Linked DNA regions of Homo sapiens: region 2 is linked to region 1. The links come from fine-mapping of genetic effects on gene expression. Tissue or cell type: whole blood. Region 1 holds a variant in brackets; the other region holds the start of a gene. All regions are shown on one strand. Distances are between the middles of the regions.

Region 1 (2,753 bases):
CTCCCCTGCTCAGTGCCCTCTGCTAGGAAGCCCTTCCCACCCCCGGCCTGAGATCCCACCCTCTTCAGACACTCCTGTCTGCCTGATCGCCCACCAACCCACTCATGTTGTCCTGTCCCTGGCCAGCCAAGACCCCTGAGGACAGACAGTGTCCACTCCTGCTCCTGCTTCCGTGGGCCCCCAGCTCAGCTGTGCTCCAGCCTAGGCCACCTAAGGCAGCCACCCCTGGGCTGCCAGACCCCCAGCGTCTGCCCTCACCTCCTCTGTGAGCTTGGACTTCTTTTTCAGAGTCAAATGCACCAGCTTGTGCCTCACACTGCTCTTCTTCTGGCCCTCGGGGAGCTGGGCCTGCAGGACCAGCAGGGATCAGGGTCAAGTGGCTGAGCAGAAAGCAATGTCGAGACCCCCGACAGCAAGACTTTGCGGGGAACCGTCTCGCTTCCACGTGAAGCTTACAGGGTGTCCCCCACACTGCCACCGTCCACCTGCTCACCCCTACCCTTGCACCCCCACTAGCCAACTGGCAGTCAGGAAAACTGAGACTCAGAAAAACATAGTACGGGAGCTGGCTCCAACTGCAAAGCCCCTGTCTGCTCTGCCATGAGGCCCCTCAGTTATGGTCAGCACTTTACAGTTTATAAAAGTTGCACACATTTGTTCCCACAAGTAGACAAAGGAGGGTGGCAGGCAGGGGTCGGTGAGGCAGAGATGAATTATAGGATCCTTTTTCTGCAGAGGAGCCCAAGGCTGGTGATGCCAGCGGCCCTCCTTGTCGGCCTGGGAGGGACATCATCCAGAGGGCACCTTGGCCTCACCTCGCCCTCGCCCTGCAGGGCCTGCAGCTCCCTCTTGTACGTCTTCTTGCCCAGGGTCTCATAAATCTTGGTCATCACAGGGATCTTCTCACTGCCATCACTCATGGCTGTGTGGTACTTGGGCTCAGGGAGGTCCCCCATGAAGCGGAGGATGGTGATCCAGACCGCCAGGGCTGCCTGGGGCAGAGCGCGCATGTCAGAGGCCAGAGCGGAGGACATTGCTAAAGCTGTCAAAATGACCTGGCGGTTTGGGGAGTGGGCTGGAGACACCCCCTCCCGCATGGTCAGCCCTCAGGCTGGGCACCGCAGTGAAGACTATAGTCAGACCTGGTCCCTGGCCCCCAGGGACCCACCACCCTCATCACCTACGGCCACCACCAGCAGCAGAGTCCATAGCCCCAGCCCTGGCCCCACCCAGCAGTGACCTAGTGACAGGCAGGCCTTACCAGCTGGTCACCCTCGTCGTCATGGTAGAGCAGTGGCTGTTTGAGTGGCCGCCGGGTGTAGGAGTGCGTGGTTGTCCCCTGGAAGTAGGTGGCCGCGAACTTGGCAAATTTATACTCAGAGAGGTCCTCCTCATCCTCGTCAGGCAGGGGCAGGGCTGCATCCAGGTCCTCCTCCACCATCTCCCTCCGCCCTCGCTCCAGGTCCTGAAGGAGACAAGAGGTATGCCCTGGAGTCCCAGCTACTCAGGAAGCTCAGGTGGGAGGATCGCCTGAGCCCAGAAGTTCAAGGCTGCAGTGAGCTGTGATCACGCTACTGCACTCCAGCCTGAGCAACAGGGTACGACCCCATCTCAAAAAAAA[A/C]AAAAAAAAAAAAAACAAAAAAAAAAACTTGAGAAGGGCGTTGGAGAGGGACAGGACCTGGGACCTGCAGCCCGGACCCAGTTCATCTCTGCTCCCCACTGTTCAGAGGGACTGGGTGGGCTTTAAGGCCAAGGGCACAGAAGGAGGGAGGATCAACACAAGCGGTGTGTGTGGGCCTCTGGAGCCCCTGTCCCTAGCCTGGTACCTCAAAGCCACTAGGTGCCTGGCCCTCCTGGCCTGGCAGGCCACCTGAAGTCCCCAGGAAGCCAAACATCTTGTCCACCATGTCTGAGTGATTGACAGGCTCATGGCGGGCCCTTTCCATCTGCTCCAGGAGCTCCTTCTTCCGCCGAGCGGCCTCCTTCTCCTTCAGCTCCCGCTCAGCGTCCTCACGAGCCAGCTGGGCCAGGCGCTCCTGGGCAATTGGGGTGACACAGAAGACACGGGGTCAGCCCCCGGTGCCACAGCCTCAGGGAACAAGCTCTCCCTGGGGAGCCCCTGCAGCAGCCAGGGCCTCAGTCCCCACCTCCTGACCGCTGGGAAGAATGGAGCCTCTGACTTCCCCACCTCTGGACCACTCAGAGGCCTCTCAACAAGCCAAATAACAATCCTGCCCGTCCTTCAGGGCTCTCAGGGAGCCACCTCCTCCAGGAGCCTGCTCCATGGGGACCACACCAACCCAGACATCCCACGGCCATTGGCTTGAGGCTCTAGACCAGTGTTGCCCAATAGGAATACAATGTGAGCCACCCATATAGTAGCCACGTTTTAAAAAGCAAAAAGGAATAGGTGGGATTAGTCTTAGCAGTATATTTAACTCAATATTTCCCAAATATTAACTTAGCATGTAATCCATATTATAAAAATAATACTGAGATATTTTATATTCATTTTTCCCCCACCAAATCTTCAAAATCTAGTATTTCACACTTAAAGCACTGTGTCATTCGGACAGGCCACACTGCAAGTGTTCAGTTGCCACTGTGGCTGGTGGCTCTCTATTGGGCAGTGTAGCACCCTCGTGCCGTCAGCTGGCTTGTGCTTTTACCAGGGTGTTATCTCAACAACTAGAAAGGGGCTGCTGAGGGCCTGGGCCTCTTCCTCTGGAGCCACCACAGCCCTTCATCCTTTT
Region 2 (2,753 bases), 54 kb after region 1:
ATTTTGACTAGTGAATTTCCACTTATGGTTCATGGCTCAGTTCAGATGATACCTCCTCCAGGAAGCCTTCCCTGACCACTCCCAAGCTGCCAAGAGCCTCTATATTCCCCTTTATCCCATTTTGACTATATGCATTATGTTGTCAGGGTAAGGGTCAGTCCCACCTCTGCCCCCAAAGTTGGCGAGTTGATCCAGGGCAGGATGTGGCCAATGGGAGAGGGTCTGAGACATTGCCTTGTCTCCAGCCTTGTCCAGCACAGGGCCAGACCCAGAGACGGCCTCAGGAAGGAGCTTAAAAGGCAGCCCCAGCCTACAGACCCTGGTATGAGGCCCCTCTGGCTCCCAACCTGTCTCCTAGAATGCGCATCAATTTTTCACAAGGGCCCATTCAGAGCCGCCGGGGCATTCGATCCTCTGCCCATGACACTGCCCGACATCCGAGCCCTGACCCCTGCCCTGGAGCTCTGGGACACAGCAAACCCACAGTCCTTCCAGAGACCTGAACTAGTCTGGATGCCTGGTGGAGATGTGGATTCAACAGGGCCAGCAGGCAGTTGCCACCGGGCACTTGTCTGAAGATGGTGCCCAGGCTGTGGAGCAGGCGCCCTATGCCAGCATGAGCCATGAGGGCTGGGGGCAGAGCCAGTGCTTTCACTAGAGACATGGGGCTCCAAGGGATGGGGGAGAGTGGTGAGGGCGTGAAATTTAAGGGCCACATTTTAAAATGACCAGACAGACATTTCATTTCTAAAAATGAGAACTAGACCACCTTCAAGTTAATTTCTTTTCCAACTGACAACAGGGGGCATAGACTGTATTTGTATTTCTATGTCTATACCTGATTTTACCTCTTCCCCACTACAACCCTGGCTGTTGGGGCTTCATACTCCCATTTCACAGATGGGATATTTGGGGCATAGAGGAAGGAAGTGACTTATCCAAAAACGGAGATAAAGAGTGTCAGAGAGAAAGCAAAGGAGACAGAGAGAACGGACTCTTCTCTCTGCCACCACAGCATGTCTATTCCCCTGGCCCCAGGATGCCACTAACCCCAGCCCCAGCTCAGAGAAGATTCGATGGACAACATGCTCCTTGGCTCTTCCCTCCTCCAGGGGACACACATCCATCTTCCCAGGCTCGGGACAGTTTCATTCAGTGGCTGTGGTGGCTGAGCCCTCAAGGGTGGCAGGAAGCCCAGTCCCAGGAGCAAGTGGCTGTGGGGCAGAGGCTCTAGAGGTAGCTCAAGTCCATGACTCCTCCACATCCAAACCCCTCCCAATGCCCAGGACAGTGGGCAGCCCATCCTTACCTGGGGCCCAGCTGCCCACTCTCAGTGACCTGCCAGCCTGGTACAGCTGCCACCTGCACGGAGGACTCAGGAAGCTGGGTCACGGGCCCAGCCAGTCTGCAAACACACGTCCCCTCTTCCTCTGTCTGGCTCCAAGTCTCGTTCTAGGCGTCCCTCTGGGTCTTTCCCTTCCTCGCCGTCTCTCTGTGTGTGTCTCTTGTCTCTCCCTCTCTCTCCTGCCCAGAGCAGCTGTCCAGCCAGCACTGCTGCCCTCCCCTCCTCACTCCAGAGCCTTCTCCCAGGAGGCGGAGCCGGAGGGGGCCTCCAAGGTCTGGGTGCGGTGACATCAGCGTGGGGGACGGGCCGTGCTGGGGCTGGGACTAATGTCCAGAGGCTGCTCAGGGCTCTGTGCAGAGCACTGGCTGCCGACAGGGAGGCGGGGTCATTGGGGTCTGTCTCTGGCTGTGCTGCTGAATGCACCGCACCTGGGCGTGGGCCCCCCAGGCTAGCTTCAGGTGCCTCCTGTTGTTTGCAGGACACCGCCTGCTGTCTCAGCACCTGAGCAGGAAACCGCACCTGATCCTGACTTAATCACTGATGTGCTGGGGTCTCAGCCCCATTTCTTCCTCCTCTACCTGGCTGTTTGGGACTCAGAGAGGGAACGGTCAGGCAGAGCATGGCAGGAGGGAGAGTGCTGAGCTAAAGCCCTGCCTTCTGCGCCTTCTCCCTCCTGCACACCCACCCTTGCCTCTGATGTGTGTTCTCTGACGCTGGTCAATGCAACATTGCCCCCACAACCTGCTCTGCGGGTTGGGGACACATGTTATTCCGTAATCATCCAGAAACTTTGCCAAACCAGCTGACTGGGAGCCACCCCACGTGTGACAGCGACACAGATAAACTGAAGTGAAATCTGTGATTTAAAGGAGTGGGGGGAACCAAGCAAAGAGGAGCACACGTCTTTGTTATTAGCGTTGTCGAGGATGGAGACCTCGCGCGGCCCTATCGGGACATGACAGTTTCTCCTTTCCGCCCTCGGCAGCCACGCAGCTGTCGGCGGCCCCATAGTGCACCTCGCCAGGGCAGCTCTGGGTGGCAGAAGGATGTCTCTTTTGGGTCCCTAGCCCCCATAACTGGGGTGTCTGCAGGGAAGCTGCCCAGAAGGTGGGGTGGGGGCCCAAAGGGGCGCTATAGCTCGCCAGCGCCGCCTGCTGGTCACAGGCCCCACTGCCCAGCTGCTTCCGTCAGGCGGGCTGAGCACCGCTGGGAAGTGACCGTGACAGGAGTCAGCTTCTGCTAGGGCCTGGGTCCCCTCAGACCCGACGACCCTGTCCCAGGAAGACCCCAGGATGCCGTCTGCCCCTTAGCCTGCTGGCCTAACAGGAGTCCAGGAGTCCCTGGAACACAGTCCCCACCTGGGATTTGCACCTGCTGCCGAAACCCAGTACTGGCCACTCCTCAAGTC

Evidence for each region. PIP is the estimated chance that this variant, and not a neighbour inherited with it, causes the effect.
Region 2: it holds the start of MYO7A, and the variant in region 1 is fine-mapped to the expression of MYO7A in whole blood (INTERVAL, PIP 0.94).

Annotation. Positions count from the first base shown.
Region 1 is chr11:77,180,663-77,183,415 of GRCh38, reverse strand. It overlaps MYO7A (myosin VIIA), which reads right to left. Exons shown (of 49, transcript NM_000260.4): 23 at 1,827-2,036; 24 at 1,262-1,465; 25 at 816-992; 26 at 259-348. Among named protein-coding and RNA genes, the nearest start is that of MYO7A, 54 kb to the right of the region's middle. RefSeq lists an enhancer at 303-803. The variant A/C (reference allele first, on the strand shown) is at 1,622.
Region 2 is chr11:77,127,046-77,129,798 of GRCh38, reverse strand. MYO7A (myosin VIIA) reads right to left here and starts at 1,553. Exons shown (of 49, transcript NM_000260.4): 1 at 1,310-1,553. RefSeq lists enhancers at 1-698, 1,421-2,144, 2,145-2,753.